4 separate regions of the Homo sapiens genome follow, and regions 2, 3 and 4 are each reported to be linked to region 1. The links are microRNA targets in miRTarBase. Many come from high-throughput screens and were not tested one by one. Region 1 holds a microRNA gene; each other region holds the end of a gene's coding sequence.
Evidence for each region. The annotated mature microRNA hsa-miR-2681-3p reads UAUCAUGGAGUUGGUAAAGCAC and lies in region 1 at 1,897-1,918, opposite strand. An mRNA with a match to its seed (bases 2 to 7 or 8) in the 3' UTR can be bound and repressed. Matches are read on the target gene's strand: a 7mer-m8 pairs with bases 2 to 8, a 7mer-A1 pairs with bases 2 to 7 and ends in A, and an 8mer does both.

Region 1 (4,221 bases):
AAAAGAATACTGAAAATATAAGGCAATCAATTTTAAGGAACTGACTTAACCCCAGGATGAGGTTACAGCAAGTTTCCTTCATTTAACACAGTCCAGTCCAAACATTTTTCATGGGCACAACTGAAAAGTGTCACTCCATAAAGAAAAAATAATTGGTAATTTTATACTTTTATAAGAAGTCAGCCAGATGTATCCACACATCACCGTCACCAGAACCACAATCAACTTTTCTATTCCTGTACCTAAATTTTTCTGAGTGCTTAAATATATCCAACAACAGAATTAAGGGGAAGGGAAATGTTCTGGATTGAATTGTGCCCACTCCCTAAAAAATGATAAGTTGAAGTTTTAAACTCCATTTTCTCAGACTGTAAGCTTATTTGAAAACAGGTTCTTCACAAAGGTAAGTGGGTTGAAATGAGGTCATCAGGGTGGGCTCTATTGCCATATAACTGGTGTTCTTATAAAAATGGGAAATTTAGACACAGAGAAAACACACTTATGCAAAAAGAACACCATGAGAAGATGAAGGCAGAAATTGGGGTGATGATTTACGAGACAAAGAATATCAAGGATTGCCAAAGACCAATGGCCACTTGCAGAAACTAGGAAGAGGCAAATACAGACTCTGGAGGGAGCATGGTTCTGCAGAAACCTTGATTTTGGACTCAGATTCCAGAACTGTTAGAGAATAAATCTTGTGGTTTTTTTTGTTTTTGTTTTTGTTTTTTTGAGACAGAGTCTCGCTCTGTCGCCCAGGCTGGAATGCAGTGGTGCCATCTCGCCTCACTGCAACCTCCGCCTCCCAGGTTCAAGCAATTCTCCTTCCTCAGCCTCCTGAGTAGCTGGGATTACAGGTGCCCACCACCACGCCCAGCTAATTTTTGTATTTTTAGTAGAGATGGGGTTTCACCATGTTGGTCAGGCTGGTCTCGAACCCCTGACCTCATGATCCACCCACCTCGGCCTCCCTAAGTGCTGGGATTACAGGCGTCAGCCACCGCGCCTGGCCAAATCATTGTGTTTAAACCACTCAGTTGTTGATGCTTTCTTAGGGACGACCTAGAAATACAGAAGACAGAAGGATCGTGAGACAGTTCGTTATTGTTTGGCGAACTGTAGCTGGACTCCGGCTCATATAATGAAAGAAACTTAAAGGAATGCCTAAGAATATTACTCTACGAGTGTAAGAATTTGGTTTGTCAGTTTAAACTGATATCAGCAGTTACCTAAACCAAGTTTTTTAATAAGAACATCCAGGACTGACATAATGCTATTTTGTTCAGCTCTTTGAAAAACAGCACAAAGCTAGCATCTCTGTGACATTCATTAGGTTCTGTAGCACAACATCCCAGAGGATGCTTTTGGGCTTCCTGCATCTCAGTCACTTAGAATGAACCTTAAAATTCAGATTTTTCAAGGCTCATCCCAAACCTACCGAATCAAAGTGACTTCTTCTGTTGAGTAAGAATGTCTGAGGGTGGAGTGTTCTATTGAGTCAGAATGTCTAAAGTCATTTGTAAACTAATCTCAGATAGATAATCCTTGTATACATTAAGAGAACCACTGTCCTATGTTTACTTGACTGTTTTCATAATGTTTTCCTTCTGATTGTGGTAAAGTTAAAATTGTTTTGAGCTAAATGTGTACCAATATCAGTTTCTGCAGTATAAACAAAGCTTGATTATTTCAAGGTCATGCAGTGAGAACATTTATGCTGTGTGGGAGGAACCTCTAATTCCTTCTAATGAATAACACAAGCAAAATACAAGAAAAACAATGCAAACACTGGAAGGCATAAGTAAGCACATCTGTTTTTAAATGTTCTCCTCTCATTGATTCCTCTAATCAAGGTGCTTCTTTAGATAGCTTACACGTTGAATTATTCATGCATCTGTGCTTTACCAACTCCATGATACTGAAGAGTCTTTGGGCAGTCTCCTGGAGGTGGTAAAACACAAATGCGTGAAAAGGGGGCAGAGAGCATATCTTTGCTCTTGATGTCTTTTTAACCTCTATTGAATCCTCTACAAAACCTATTGCATGGCTTAGACACATTAAACACCCAATAAATTCCTGCTGCCTAATCAGAAGGAAGAAAATCTGATACATGAACACTCCCAGGATAAAATGGGGTGATGGCTTGGACATGCTGGTAACAGAGGTAACATTTTCTATTTCCAAATTGCAAGTTCACCCATAACTGTAATGGAGATGAGTCACTGGGTCAATGGTCATGCTGTAAATTTGTAGCTCTCTGCTAACACTTGAAAATAATTCTTAAAATGATTGTCTTCATTTTATTAGCATGACTGATGACTTGGAAGGGAATCTATAATTGATTACATTCTACAACCAACCTCTGTTACTCAAATGAGTGAAAGTGCAGTTATAAGTAGATAAATCTTGTCTAAGAAATGAAGATAAATTCATATAAATGCATAAAGGTGAAATTGTTATGTAATGGCTATGCCTAATTTATTAAGCATGTCATAATAAGCCTGACAAAAAGTCTAAAAAATATTTTTTGCAAGATACTGAACAGTAACAAAATATTTTACCTGTTGGATGTACAAAATCTTATTTTAACAGCTACTGAACACATTAAAAAAAATACAGCTTAGGCTGGGCGTGGTGGCTCATGCCTGTAATCCCAGCACTTTGGGAGACCGAGGCAGGCGGATCATGAGGTCAGGAGATCGAGACCATCCTGACTAACATGGTGAAACCCCGTCTCCACTAAAAATACAAAAAATTAGCCAGGCGTGGTGGCAGGCGCCTGCAGTCCCAGCTACTCGGGAGGCTGAGGCAGGAGAATGGCGTGAACCTGGGAGACGGAGCTTGCAGTGAGCTGAGATCGTGCCACTGCAATCCAGCCTGGGCGACAGAGCGAGACTCCGTCTCCAAAAAAAAAAAAAAAAACCTCAATATCAATATTTCCTGTATTTTATACTTAAGAATACCACAATTACAAAAGTCACAGCCACAAAAGTGTGAGATCATACAGCTGCCAGACTAAGTGTTCCCCCACAACTCTTTTAACTCACTTTTCATTTGTTCTGTAATCATGCATTCCATCAACAGCCTTTTTTTTTTTTTTTTTTAAATCTGGGCATTGTTTGAGTTGAAAAAAGCTGGGGGTTTGGAAGCAGGGAGGGTACTTTAAGGAAGATGGGTTTTTATCACCAGGTCACTTTCCATCCACAATTCCTTGGTATGGACAGAAGAGAAGGGCATGCCTAGAGCCTGAAGCTAGCACAGAACTCACTAGTTGAAAGAAACAAGGATGGTCAGTGGAAGGGGAGGTAAGGAAAATCTGGCCAGTGGGCTCCATGCCTTGGAGTCATGCTTAGATCCACCTTTGTGAAGGGGTGGACTGCCTAGGTCTTCATAACTACCTGTGCCAGCACTTAGCTCATAGTTGTCACTTATCATGGGTGGGTAAGTTACCAAATAAACAACTTCATCTGGTCTGGTTACTGGGGATTGAAGGATAAGAAACGGTATAGTCTAGGCTGGGTGCAGTGGCTCACGCCTGTAATCCCAGCACTTTGGGAGGCCGAGGTGGGCGGATCACAAGGTCAGGAGATCGAGACCATCCTGGCTAACACGGTGAATCCCCGTCTCTACTAAAAATAACAAAAAAAAAGAAATGGTATAGTCTAGTGTTTCTGGCTGTTAGTCATTGGTAAAGCCAAAATACTCCTGCCTTTGAAGTTTCCTGATGCCTTCTAAACATTATATTTCAATCTGGTGAAGGAATAGGGCTCTAATGAGTCATTTGTGAAACCCTAATCAATAGCCTTGTGGTCTCCCTCATTTCTTATTATCATTGCACACACTACATCCACATGACTGCTTGTAAGACTATTTTTCACCGTAAATTGAACTCAAAATTTGCATATTTCTACCAATTTTAAATTTTGGCTTATGTTACATTTTGTATGAACAAGTTGCTGCCTAGAGTAGAAAAGTGGCATCCAATTAGAAAAAAGGAATTTTTATTTGATGAGGCCCTGAGTTGTGATGACTGGGGTGAAAGGAGAGGTTGGGTGGAGGTTGCTCTATTGTTCTAGTCTACAAAACACCCCATATCTTGACAATGAGTGCCTTTAAAGGGCAAAAACTGAGTGTTCATTTCTTTTAAGTATTCCTGCCGGTAGCAAACATTCGTAATTTATGGGTCAGAACATTTCAGATGCTTTCTCTTCTGGCCTTATT
Region 2 (4,000 bases), not on the chromosome of region 1:
ACTACGCACGCACGGTTCCCCGACTGCCCCACTTTTCCCCACGTCTCTGACCACCTTGCTCCTCTATCCCTTAAATATTCCTAAAATCCCATCTTCAGGGAGGCGGATTTGAGATCTGTTCTCCTGTCTCCTCACTCGGCTGCCTCGTGAATAAACTCTTTGCTGCAAAACCTGTCATCTCTGTTGGCATACTGCTGGGCAGAACGAGCCTGGTTTGGTAACATAAGGGAGGCGTGAATTTCTGAGTGGCTGGGACTACAGGCACGCACCTCCAAGACTGGCTAATTAAAAAAAAATTTTTTTTTGAGACGGAGACTTCTCAGTCACTCAGGCTGGAGTGCAGCGGCTCACTGCAACCTCCGCCTCCCAGGTTCAAGCAATTCTCCTGCCTCAGCCTCCTGAGTAGCTAGGATTTTTGTACTTTTAATAGAGATGGGGGTTTCAGCATGTTGGCCAGGCTGGTCTTGAACTCCTGACCTCAAGTGATCCACCTGCCCTGGCCTCCCAAAGTGATGGGATTAAAGGCGTGAGCCACTGCATCCGGCCTAATTTTTCTATTTTTTTGTAGAGATGGGGGGTCTTACTGTGTTGCCTAGGCTGGTCTCAAACTCCTGGGCTCAAGCAAGCCACCTGCCTCAGTCTCCAAAGTGCTGGGATTACAGGCATGAGCCACCACACCCACCCTGGTAAATGTCATCCTGGGGATCCTCTAGGAGAAAACCGCACAGCTGCTGAACAATGTGCACAACGGAGACCAACTCAAAAGAAATCCTGTTGCACGTGAGCAGATTGGAGAGCAGTGGGGGGTCAGCGCAGTGGAACTTATTCCTACTCCCACCCCAACAAGAGCACCAGGCCTGTGCTGGCCCAGCCGCCCCTCCTCTCTGGGCACGCAGAGGCTCCCACTTCTGGCCTGGCAGTGGGTGGGTCCTCCAAGTTGCTCTGGCCAATGGGCTGCAGGTGAAGTGAGCCAGGATTGCCACTGGAGACCCTCTGGTGGCTGCCCCTGCAGATGGTGACTGACGTTCAGGCCTGAAGCCTCAGCCAGCCCCAGAGTGCAGGGCTCTTGGGAAGGAAGGCCATGTTCAAGCCCATGAGACTTTGGGCTGTGCTGGCTGCACAGAGACGGCCCCTCCTGCCTTTGTGGGTGGCCACATATATCCTGAAAGGGATGAGTGTATGCACAGAATCTCTGTGGGAGGAGACAAGAGAAAATGGTCACAGGAGGCCCCCTGCAGAGGGAACTGTTCACCTACTTTTCACTGTAAACCCTTGTGGACAGCTGGTGTTTTCTGGAAAATTGTGGTATGTATTAATTCAAACAACAATTGCATTTAAAAACTTCTTTATTCAAGACTTTTATTCAGAACTTTTATCACAAATGTGTCAAAAGCACTTCAACCCTGTTTGGGGGTTCATGGGGGAAGATGGGGGGGCGGTCAGAGCCAAAGAAGAGCCAGGAGCAGGAGAAGAAGTCATTTAAGTTTTTATTAAATATACTCTCTTGGCACAAATCTTTAAAATATATAAACATTAGATATAAACAGTGTCTTCATGGCATCAAAATATAACTCCAGACCAAGACCAGTGACCAGCAGGGAGGCGAGTGACCGCAGAGCCTGAGGGCCTGGCTGTGTGCAGGGGTGGGGGACAGCACTGTCCCCAACTCCTGCCGGGTCCCACTCAGCTAGGAGCCATCTCCGGGGAGACACACTGGGGTCAGCAGGGACTGGGGGACCCTCCCACCTACCCCTTGTCTCTCCTGCCTAGCCTGTGGCCCCAAATCCACTCATTTGGTCTCACCCACCTGGGGCAGACCCCCAATTCCTACTGCTGTTGCATGCTTGTGGGAGTTGGGTGCCCTCCCATCTCCCTGTGAGGGTTGCCCTGCCTCTCCTGCCAAGTTTAAGTGCTGGGTAAGGGATACCCACACAGTGGGACAGCCCCTCACAGCCATCACAGGCTGCCTGGGCCTCTGGGGACAAGATCAGGGATGGCTGGTGGCCACATGCAAGGAAGGCAGAGAGAGCGGTCTGCACACCTGCAGGTCCAAGGCAAGAACAGGAGGAGGACAGAAGGAAGGGAAATGAAGTCACGACTGGAGATGAACAAGCTCAGATCCCTTCACACAGCGTGTGCTGAGCCAGCTGTCGAAAGCAACACTCACGGTCACGCTCACCCTGGCACCAGGCAGACCAGTCAGGGGTTCGATGTGAATAGATCATAGACCCGGGGTCAGCCAAGTTGAAAACCAAAACAAAACAAACAAAAAAAAGAAATCAAGAAACTCACCATGTCATTAGGAAATGGGTGTTTCTGAGTCCCTGTGATAGCTGGCGGGCCCTGGGGGACTCCTCTGAGAGACCAGTTAGCTGGGGGTTCCCCTGGGTACCTCAGATTTTCCTCACCTCCCACCCCCAAGCTATACTCTATCATGAGGCTCCCACTTCGGGGGATTGAGGCTAGCAGGCACCCCATGCTCCATTTCATAGAAACTGAACAACCCCTGTGGGCTTTAAATTGCTCCATATCCCAGCCAAGTGCCTGCTCAAGTGGGGACCCAAGGACCTGCTGGATACCACAGCTGGGCAGAGGGTTGGGGCACTGAGATGCTAGGCCTGGGGGGCTTCTGGGCCAAAGGAGGTGGTTTGTGTGCTCACATTTCAGCAGATGCCCCAGGATGCAGGTCTGACCCAAACCTGAGGCAGTTCCGTGTCATGGCCTGGGCCTCGAGCCCTGCTGTGCAGAGCAAGCATGAATCTCCTGGGAAGGTTACAAAGCAGGTGGGCATGGGCAGGCAACTCTAGGGGGAGATGCACTCTTGGGGACCCAGCTGCTTGCAGGGTCTAGGATAGACATGAGGCTCTGGGGGACACTGTTCCCAGCAGGAGGCTCTAGTGACTGAGGAGTCGTGGCCATGTGGGAAATACTGGAGAAGGCAGGGCCGGCAGGGTGGGGTGGGCCAGGGGCTGCATTTGTGGCCAAAGCTGAGCACGAGGCTGGCCCCATCCTGGGCAGGGTCCGCCTGCAAGAAAGGCGCCCCCGCACCCTGGAGGCCGGGCAGGCACGTGGAGTCAGAACAAGAAGGTCCAGGCGCGGTCTGGCTCTGAGCCTGGTGGGGACAGGGGTCACTAGAATCAGCAGCATGTCGGAGGACACACAGGATCAGGAGGTGGAGCTGACCACGCCCCACTAGGGCCTTTTGGGCAACACCTCCGGCAGACAGCGCCAGCGTCTGCAGAGGAAGGAAGAGGGGAGCTGCGGGACCCCCCACACCATCGCCCCAACACTGCACTTCCAGGGCTGCCAGCTTTGCGTTTGGACGTGGACTCTGAGCCCAGGCCCCTCAGGCCCACCTGCTCGTTCCATAAAGCGCCCCATGTGCCTCCTGAAGTAGAATCAAGCGCACCCCCCCACCGTTCCATGGGCCCAGAATACAAAGGGGTCACCGGTCCACCGTCCTGAGAGCAGCTCAGGGTCCCCTAGCTCTGCAGGTGCCGCAGCAGGATCTGCATGAGGTCGAAGGTGGTGAAGCTGATGCCCACGGCGATGGGACCCTTGACCCAGTTCATGCTCAAGCCTTTGTAGAGGCCGCGCACGGCGCCCTCCTCCCGCACGATGGTGCGCAGCGTGCGGGCGATGGAGGCGCGCGGGTAGCCCGTGACGCCGGCCGTCTGCATGCGCCGCCGCACCACATCCAGCGGGTACGAGGCCGACTGCCCGATGAGGCCAGCGCAGGCGCCGAAGATCATGCGCTCGAAGGGGTAGGGCTGCCGGCGGCCGCTGTACTCTGCAGGGCGAGGGGCGGGAGGGCCGTGAAGGCGCCGCGAGGGGGCGCGCACCCCGCACCCGTGCGCGCGCCTTTGCACCCCTAGGAGCAACCTGCGTGCACATACACACATGCACTTGCACCCCCACGTGTGTTCGCACTCATGCGCACCCACACGCCCCACTGCCTCACCTCCGGGTCGCTCCTTTCACTCAAACTCGAGAAATAAAA
Region 3 (4,221 bases), not on the chromosome of region 1:
TATGGCACTTTTATCAGATGCTAAATTTCTATATATATTGGGGTTATTTCTAGTCTTCTGTTTCATTGATATATCTGTCATTCGTGTGCCAATACCATGCTGTCTTAATTTGTTTATAGATTTGTAAGTATGCTAATTTCTGATAAGGTATCTTTGATATGTTTTCTTTAGGTGCTGTTTTGTCATGGGTCTGTCTATTATGCAAATAATTAAAGTATTTTTACTTTATTTAGTGACAGATTTAACCATATTATATTTTTCTTTATTAAAATTTTTCATGGAAATTAGGATGAAGTAATGGATTATGGGTACACTGTAATTTACCTAATTATATCTAGTGTGGTATATTTAGTTGCTTCCTATTTTATTATTATAACTAATGCTACAAAGGTTATCTTAGTCATAAAACTCCTACTATGTTTAGGATTATTTACTTAATGTAACAGCATAGAAGTGAAATTTTTGGGTCAGTGATTGTGAACATATTTAAAGCTCAATATTTATTGCCACGTTGCTTTTCAAACAGATCATATTGGTTTAGACTGCTATATATACACACACATATATATATAAATGTTGTATTACAGTTTTATTTTTACTTTATTTTTATTACCTTTTTAGGTTTCTTGTGATCAGCCCTTACTGAAAGAAGGATATAAAAGTGCCCAAAAGCGGGCCCCTCAAGGGGAGGCAACCACAGTCTCTGAATATTTCTTCAATGATATCTTCATTGAAGTGGATGAAACAGAATAAAACAATCTTTTCTCTTTTTCTTTTTTAAATTAGGTCTAGGATTTCCAGAGTCAATTACATCAACAAAACAGTATTTAGAGCAAAATATCACTGTCTTATTTTTCTTTAGGTTGATTTTGAATACTTAATGAGCTTGATTTGAAGCTTTTATAATCAGTGGAAAACATTTCTGAGGTTCCTTTCATTCTGACTGATTCAGCATTTTGCAAATAGCAAGCAATTAAGACTGCTTTCTCAGACAGAAATAACAACTCTTGTTTACATTTTGACTCTTCCTGTGCTAAGCACACATGGACATTTGGGAATGTTGTGGATATATGTCTCTGTATGAATTGCAGTGCAGACAGATTTGGGGGTTAATTGTATCATATTTAACATTTAGCAACTTCTTTTGTGAAGATTTTTTATTTTTAGGGGGAGATGATGAAGGATGAAGGCTTTTTCATTTGCTTCTAAGTACAGTCATGTATCACATAATGAAGTTTAAGTCAATGATGGACCACATATATTACAGTGGTCCCATGCAATTAAAATGGAGATAAATTCCTATCAACTAGTGACATTATAGCCATCATAACACAGTGCATTGCTTTTTTATGTTTAGATATGTTTAGATACACAAATACTTACTATTGTGTTACAACTGCCTACAGTATTCAGCATAGTAACACATTGTAGAGGTTTGTAGCCGAGGAGCAATAGGCTATACCACATAGCCTCAGTCTGTACGGTGTGTAGCAGCCTGTACCATCTCAGTGTTTGTAAGTACACTCTGCGTTGTTTCACACAAGATCACCTAACAAGGCAATTCTTAGAACATGTAGTTAAGGGACACGTGACTATATGTGAAAACAAATTGTCAAACTTCACTTTAGTATGGCAAATGTTAAAGAACTTTTCTATTATCAGCTGTTTGTCTGACTGAAAAATACATATTTTTCTAATTCATGGTGATGTAACATTAGTCCTAATTGAAAAACTAGTATTTAAACATAATTATTTATAAAGATGACACATCAAAGGGCTTATTTATTTTTAAATTTTTTATTTAAAAGGATATTCAGTTTTAGCTATTTTTACCCCTCAGATTGTAGATAAAGAAGGCATTAAATTTATGTTTGTCTCCTTTTTCTGTTTAATTTTAAAGATATTTAAAATGATATAACTAAAAATGTTTAGCTGGTGTATATGTTTTGAATACCTTTTTCCCCTCAGTTTAGTATATTGACTTTGTACTGTAAATTTTTCTGCTTTTCTTGGATAATCTCAGGATTTTCATGAGGATAGGGGGAACTCAACTTTATTTATGAGACAAAATTTCCATACAAAGCTCAATCTCCTTTATACACCCACAGACATAATATTAGTTTTTAAAAAGCCAATTTCTTCATAGTTTTTTCCCATTAAATTCTCAAGGAACACTTGGATCTTTAAGCACGGAACATAATCATGATGTTAAAAACAGAGAAAATAAGGCTTTATAAAGTTAATGATTATCATCAGTATGAATTTAAGGTTTGTTTTAATTTCAAGATTTGATTTTTTATACGTGTAATTCTATTATCTACCCAAGCAGATCTGTAGTGGTTCCAATTAGACTTCTCAAACAGCAAATTTATCCTGATTTTATTTGAAAAGCCTCTTGGATTGATAGTATAGTAGCTCAGGCATTGGAAACTTTCTGCAAACTGTTTTGGGTTTGCAGGCCAGATGGTCTCTGTGGCAGCTACTCAGCTCTGCAATTTCAGTGTGAAAGAAGCCATAGACAGTACTTGAATGAAGGACTGTGGCTGGATTGGCCTTTTAGTTTGACCCCCTACATTAGGCCCCAAATTTTCTTACCCTGAGGTGCTGATATCTGTATGGATGAGTTATTTGTCACTAAAGTTATGAGTTGTGCCTAAAAGTTAAAACTGTTGACTGTATTATGTAATGATCAGTATTTCAGTTGGGAAGATATTTTAGAGTCTAGATAATTATGTTTGTATATTGAAAAAATGGTGGCCAGTTTTTAAGTTCCTTAATAGAAGAGAATTATGTCTCAGCACATATAACAGTAATGCTAATTTATTGAAACTACTGCTGTTAGAGCACTTCTTATTCATTGTCTTTTAGTGAAATTTATGGCGTAACACTTTGTCAGAGAGGAGGCTATATAATTCGGAGCGGAAATTGTCTATAAGTAGGCATTTATTTCATGATTGATATGTCACAGAAATCATGGTAGTAAATCACATTGCTATTTGAATACCCTGTTTTTGTAAGTTTTTAAAACTCATATTCTGAAAAGATTTCATTCTCTTAGTGTTAGCTTGGGAGTTAGATTGCCATGATTAAACTATTATTTATCCTTGTGTAATATTAGTTTTTAACTTTAACATCTGTTTCTTTTTAATCTATAATGAGCTAGTTTTATGGAAAATGGAATTTCTTACTATATAAAGAATACAGAGACTCATTGTATTAGAGAATCAAGTCAGCCAGCTAAAGTATCCTACTGTTAAATCCTTAAACCTAATTTTGGAAAAGAGAAAGTTAATCAATGTATTTACCTTACATGTTGGAAAGAACTATGTTAGGTCTGATTCATGTGAAGAAGATGTTGCAAAGGATTTATTTCACAAATTTTAAAGGAGATATGAGTAAAAGTTTTTATCTTTTCTTGACTTTTTCTCCTGAACACTTATGTCTTAGCAAGTGGTCAACATGAGGATTTGAACGCCTAATTGTTGGTAAATGGTTGAGGCATGACAAAAATATTAATATCCACTGTTTACCATCATGTTATTTGAAACAAAAGTGACCATGTATACTATCTTGCTTGAAGAAGTCTTTGACAGAAAAAGCAATATCATGTCATTTATAAATTTTCTTGTTCTAAAGAAAGCAGTTATATATATATATAAATTATGTAAATAAAAGTTATTTTATATCATTTCTGTTGTGTCCTTTTAAGATGACTAAATAAAGAATTGGCTGGGTATCGTGGCTTACACCTGTAATCCCAGCACTTTCGGAGGCCGAGGTGGGAGGATTGCTTGAGCCCAGGAGTTCAAGACCAGCCTGGGCAACATAATGAGACCTCATCTCTACAAAAAAATTAAAAATCAGCCAACTGTGGTGGTGTGTGCTTTTGGTCCCAGTTACTCAGGAGGCTGGGATGAGAGGTTCGCTTGAGCCCAGGAGGAGGTTGAGGCTGCAGTGAGCTGTGATTGCCCCACCACACTCCAGCCTGGATGACAGAAGAAGACCCTGTCTTTGTGGGGAGGAGACAAATTTTTGACAGGTGTGCATGTCGTTATTTCAAAGCTGTAGGAGTCTGCAATGTGATTGTCCTAATAGTATTTGGAAGAGACTCCACACAGCATCTCTGTTTGCTGCAGCATCGCATCCTGAATCTGCTGGAGAGCCCTGTCTTACATTGGGTTTCACTAAAAATCGGCAGTCTTACGGGCTACCCAGTAAGTA
Region 4 (4,221 bases), not on the chromosome of region 1:
TCTTAGGGGGCTCACGTGGTCTCTGCTGTTGATCCCTGGCAGGTGAATAAGGAAGAAGAGACAGATGAGAATGAAACAGAGTGGCTGATGGAAGAGATCCAGCTGCCTCCTCCACGGCAGGGAAAGGAAGGGCAGGAGAACGGCCATATTACCACCAAGTCAGTGAAAGCCCTCAGCTCCCTGCATGGGGATGACCAGGACAGTGAGGATGAGGTTCTGACCATCCCAGAGGTGAAAGTTCACTCGGGCAGGGGAGCTGGGGCAGAGAGCTCCCACCCAGTGAGAAACGCACAGAGCAATGCCCTTCAGGAGCGTGAGGACGATAGGGTGGGGCTGGTCAGGGGTGAGAAGGCGAGGAAAGGGAAGTCCAGCTCTGCACAGCAGAAGACAGTGAGCTCCACCAAGCTGGTGTCCTTCCATGACGACAGCGACGAGGACCTCTTACACATCTGACTCCGCAGTGCCTGCAGGGGAGCACGGAGCCGCGGGACAGCCAAGCACCTCCAACCAAATAAGACTTCCACTCGATGATGCTTCTATAATTTTGCCTTTAACAGAAACTTTCAAAAGGGAAGAGTTTTTGTGATGGGGGAGAGGGTGAAGGAGGTCAGGCCCCACTCCTTCCTGATTGTTTACAGTCATTGGAATAAGGCATGGCTCAGATCGGCCACAGGGCGGTACCTTGTGCCCAGGGTTTTGCCCCAAGTCCTCATTTAAAAGCATAAGGCCGGACGCATCTCAAAACAGAGGGCTGCATTCGAAGAAACCCTTGCTGCTTTAGTCCCGATAGGGTATTTGACCCCGATATATTTTAGCATTTTAATTCTCTCCCCCTATTTATTGACTTTGACAATTACTCAGGTTTGAGAAAAAGGAAAAAAAAACAGCCACCGTTTCTTCCTGCCAGCAGGGGTGTGATGTACCAGTTTGTCCATCTTGAGATGGTGAGGCTGTCAGTGTATGGGGCAGCTTCCGGCGGGATGTTGAACTGGTCATTAATGTGTCCCCTGAGTTGGAGCTCATTCTGTCTCTTTTCTCTTTTGCTTTCTGTTTCTTAAGGGCACACACACGTGCGTGCGAGCACACACACACATACGTGCACAGGGTCCCCGAGTGCCTAGGTTTTGGAGAGTTTGCCTGTTCTATGCCTTTAGTCAGGAATGGCTGCACCTTTTTGCATGATATCTTCAAGCCTGGGCGTACAGAGCACATTTGTCAGTATTTTTGCCGGCTGGTGAATTCAAACAACCTGCCCAAAGATTGATTTGTGTGTTTGTGTGTGTGTGTGTGTGTGTGTGTGTGTGTGTGAGTGGAGTTGAGGTGTCAGAGAAAATGAATTTTTTCCAGATTTGGGGTATAGGTCTCATCTCTTCAGGTTCTCATGATACCACCTTTACTGTGCTTATTTTTTTAAGAAAAAAGTGTTGATCAACCATTCGACCTATAAGAAGCCTTAATTTGCACAGTGTGTGACTTACAGAAACTGCATGAAAAATCATGGGCCAGAGCCTCGGCCCTAGCATTGCACTTGGCCTCATGCTGGAGGGAGGCTGGGCGGGTACAGCGCGGAGGAGGAGGGAGGCCAGGCGGGCATGGCGTGGAGGAGGAGGGAGGCCGGGCGGTCACAGCATGGAGGAGGAGGGAGGCGCTGCTGGTGTTCTTATTCTGGCGGCAGCGCCTTTCCTGCCATGTTTAGTGAATGACTTTTCTCGCATTGTAGAATTGTATATAGACTCTGGTGTTCTATTGCTGAGAAGCAAACCGCCCTGCAGCATCCCTCAGCCTGTACCGGTTTGGCTGGCTTGTTTGATTTCAACATGAGTGTATTTTTTAAAATTGATTTTTCTCTTCATTTTTTTTTCAATCAACTTTACTGTAATATAAAGTATTCAACAATTTCAATAAAAGATAAATTATTAATTGGGTGTTACCATTTTTTCCTTGATAGTGAGACGTTCCCGAGCGAGTTACCCATCTGCCTGCCTGTCTTTTCTTTCTGTTAAGTGACTGAATTTGGGTTTTAACTCTGGTGTTCTCGTTGACCCTTTATGAGGCAGCACTTTCATTTTTCTCCAGAGTCTCCTGGTCGTAGGTGTTAACTTTGGGTCCAATCTGCCTTCCCTTGGCTCTTTCTAGATCCGATTTCTTTACCTTCTCCAGGCCAACCTCGGGGTGTGGTCCTGTTCATCAAAACAATGAACATGGAGTTTAGAGTCCAGTGAGTCAATAAAGCTTTTTTTTGTGCAACCTGATCTAACATGGAGATGTTTTCTCTTGAGTAAACTCACTGAGTTTTCCATCTTAAATTACTCAGCAGTGACTGAGAGCTACCTGCATGGAAGCAGGAAGTTACTCCAGTGTTATAAACAAACTTCTTAGACTCAACATCCTATTCTCCATCCCTTTTTTTTTCCTGTAGAGTCCAAAAACCTCAACCGTCTCATTTTTAAATTATCCAATTGGAGTTACCTTTTTAAAAAAGTTATTCTTAAGGACTTTCCAATACCTCTCCTGAGGAAGACATGTCAGGTCTTCTAAAAGTTTACATTATGACCAAAGAAAGATGCTGGTCCTCAGGCATTCTACCCAGGGGGCTGTTCTCCAGGCCATTCCCACCTCCTGCTAAGACCATGGGGAGCCCTCTCTGTAAGGAGGGGCATATGCAGGGACCTGCCCATCCCCTTGGTAAGCTGGATGGCAAAAAGGCATGTTGTCTGCACCACTGGCTGCCTGCTAATGTCGCTGTCAGTGGGGAAGGAGAAGTGACAACACGTTTGAGTGCATTTGCTTTGACTCTTAGAAACCCAAGCCTCTGAAAAAAGAGTAACTACTTGCCAGCTGTTGTTACAGATGATATTTTTAGGAAAACATCCCGTGACAGCAAATCAGAATTGGACTCTTTTTCAGAGAAATGATTTTATTGATGGAGTACAACCTGGGTATTTAGCTTCCTTTCAACAAAATTTTTTGTGCCCCTTTCTTGAGACTGTCCATGAATGACAGAGACATAGAATAAGAACTGGGGTGCTAAAGATGGAATAGGCAAACCCCACACCAAGGAAATCCACAGTGAAGTGGAAATCTGGTTCTTATGAACATTTTAAGAGCATCTGAAGCCTGTACTTCACCAACCCTAAAATAATACGTAACACGAGATGATTCCTCAGGAAGGAACATATAGACATACAGACAGGAGACAACATATAGACATTAGAACTTACAGGACAAAGAACTCTTTTTCCCTGAATCATTTGAGATGAAGTTTCTTCCCATCACCAGGCATTCCTACAAACAAGGACCTTCACACGACTAAGATGCCACCTGGTGATTAAAGAACACTTTGGGCTGGTCCGATCCATTGTACAAGTTAAAGCACTGATGGGTACACAGGTCTTACCCCTGTTGGCGATCGGGTCACAAGGAGCCAGTGTGTGTGTCACCAGGAGGTTGTATGGACGAGACTGGATTTCTGGAAATATCCTTTACTGACTCTGAAGAATCCCATGGCTCAGGGAGGTACACTCATGTCCTTTCTTACTTCTCCGGTTCCACTCTGTTGACTAGTAGTTGGCCTCTTGAGCCATACTTGCTGTCAGTTCTGGACATTGTTCTGTGAGAATGGGGTCAACGGGCAGTCGTGGTGCAGGTGAGCTTGTGTGCAAGGCGGCAAGATAGCCACATTGAGTTGGGGACAGTATGGCCTGGGGGTGTTGGATAGGTAAGGCAGAAGCAAGCCCAGAACTTGGAGCCTGTTGTGACTGTCACAGTAAGGAGTTTGAAGTCCTGAAAGCAGTTGAGAGCTGTAGGAGGGCCAGATTGGGCTTTTGAGCAAGATAGTCTAGATGAAAGTAAAGAGATGGAGACGCTTCAGCAACCAGATGGGAGGTTGGGCATGGGAGCTGTGGCTGTGCTGAGCTGAGAAGCCTCAGACTGCCTGCGAGGCTCTCTCTGGGAGGAAGTCAGGTCTTTCTTTCCTTCGTTTCCTTCCTTTCATTCCTTTCCTTTCCTTCCTTTTTCCTCTTTCTTTCTTTCCTTTTCTCTCTCTCTCTTTTTCTTTCTCTCTTTCTTTCGAGATGGAGTCTCGCTCTGTTGCCAGGCTGGAGTGCAGTGGCATGATCTCGGCTCACTGCAATCTCTGCCTCCCGGGTTCAAGGGATTCTCCTGCCTCAGCCTCCCTAGTAGCTGGGATTAAAGGCACGCACTGCCACGCCCGGCTAATTT

Region 2: the mRNA of SLC25A42 is a reported target of hsa-miR-2681-3p. Seed matches in the 3' UTR shown: 7mer-A1 at 2,431-2,437.
Region 3: miRTarBase lists BDP1 as a target of hsa-miR-2681-3p. Seed matches in the 3' UTR shown: 7mer-m8 at 3,081-3,087.
Region 4: miRTarBase lists IGF2R as a target of hsa-miR-2681-3p. Seed matches in the 3' UTR shown: 7mer-A1 at 1,178-1,184 and 7mer-A1 at 1,381-1,387.

Annotation. Positions count from the first base shown.
Region 1 is chr13:101,965,769-101,969,989 of GRCh38, forward strand. It overlaps MIR2681 (microRNA 2681), which reads right to left and starts at 1,978; the gene lies at 1,874-1,978. It also overlaps a transcript of FGF14 not described here.
Region 2 is chr19:19,110,359-19,114,358 of GRCh38, reverse strand. It overlaps SLC25A42 (solute carrier family 25 member 42), which reads right to left. Exons shown (of 8, transcript NM_178526.5): 8 at 1,329-3,790. The coding sequence ends at 3,483. Among named protein-coding and RNA genes, the nearest start is that of TMEM161A, 26 kb to the left of the region's middle. RefSeq lists an enhancer at 1,105-1,399 and a silencer at 3,739-3,928.
Region 3 is chr5:71,564,133-71,568,353 of GRCh38, forward strand. It overlaps BDP1 (BDP1 general transcription factor IIIB subunit), which reads left to right. Exons shown (of 39, transcript NM_018429.3): 39 at 622-3,688. The coding sequence ends at 753. Among named protein-coding and RNA genes, the nearest start is that of MCCC2, 21 kb to the right of the region's middle.
Region 4 is chr6:160,104,632-160,108,852 of GRCh38, forward strand. IGF2R (insulin like growth factor 2 receptor) reads left to right here. Exons shown (of 48, transcript NM_000876.4): 48 at 43-4,221. The coding sequence ends at 453. Among named protein-coding and RNA genes, the nearest start is that of SLC22A1, 15 kb to the right of the region's middle.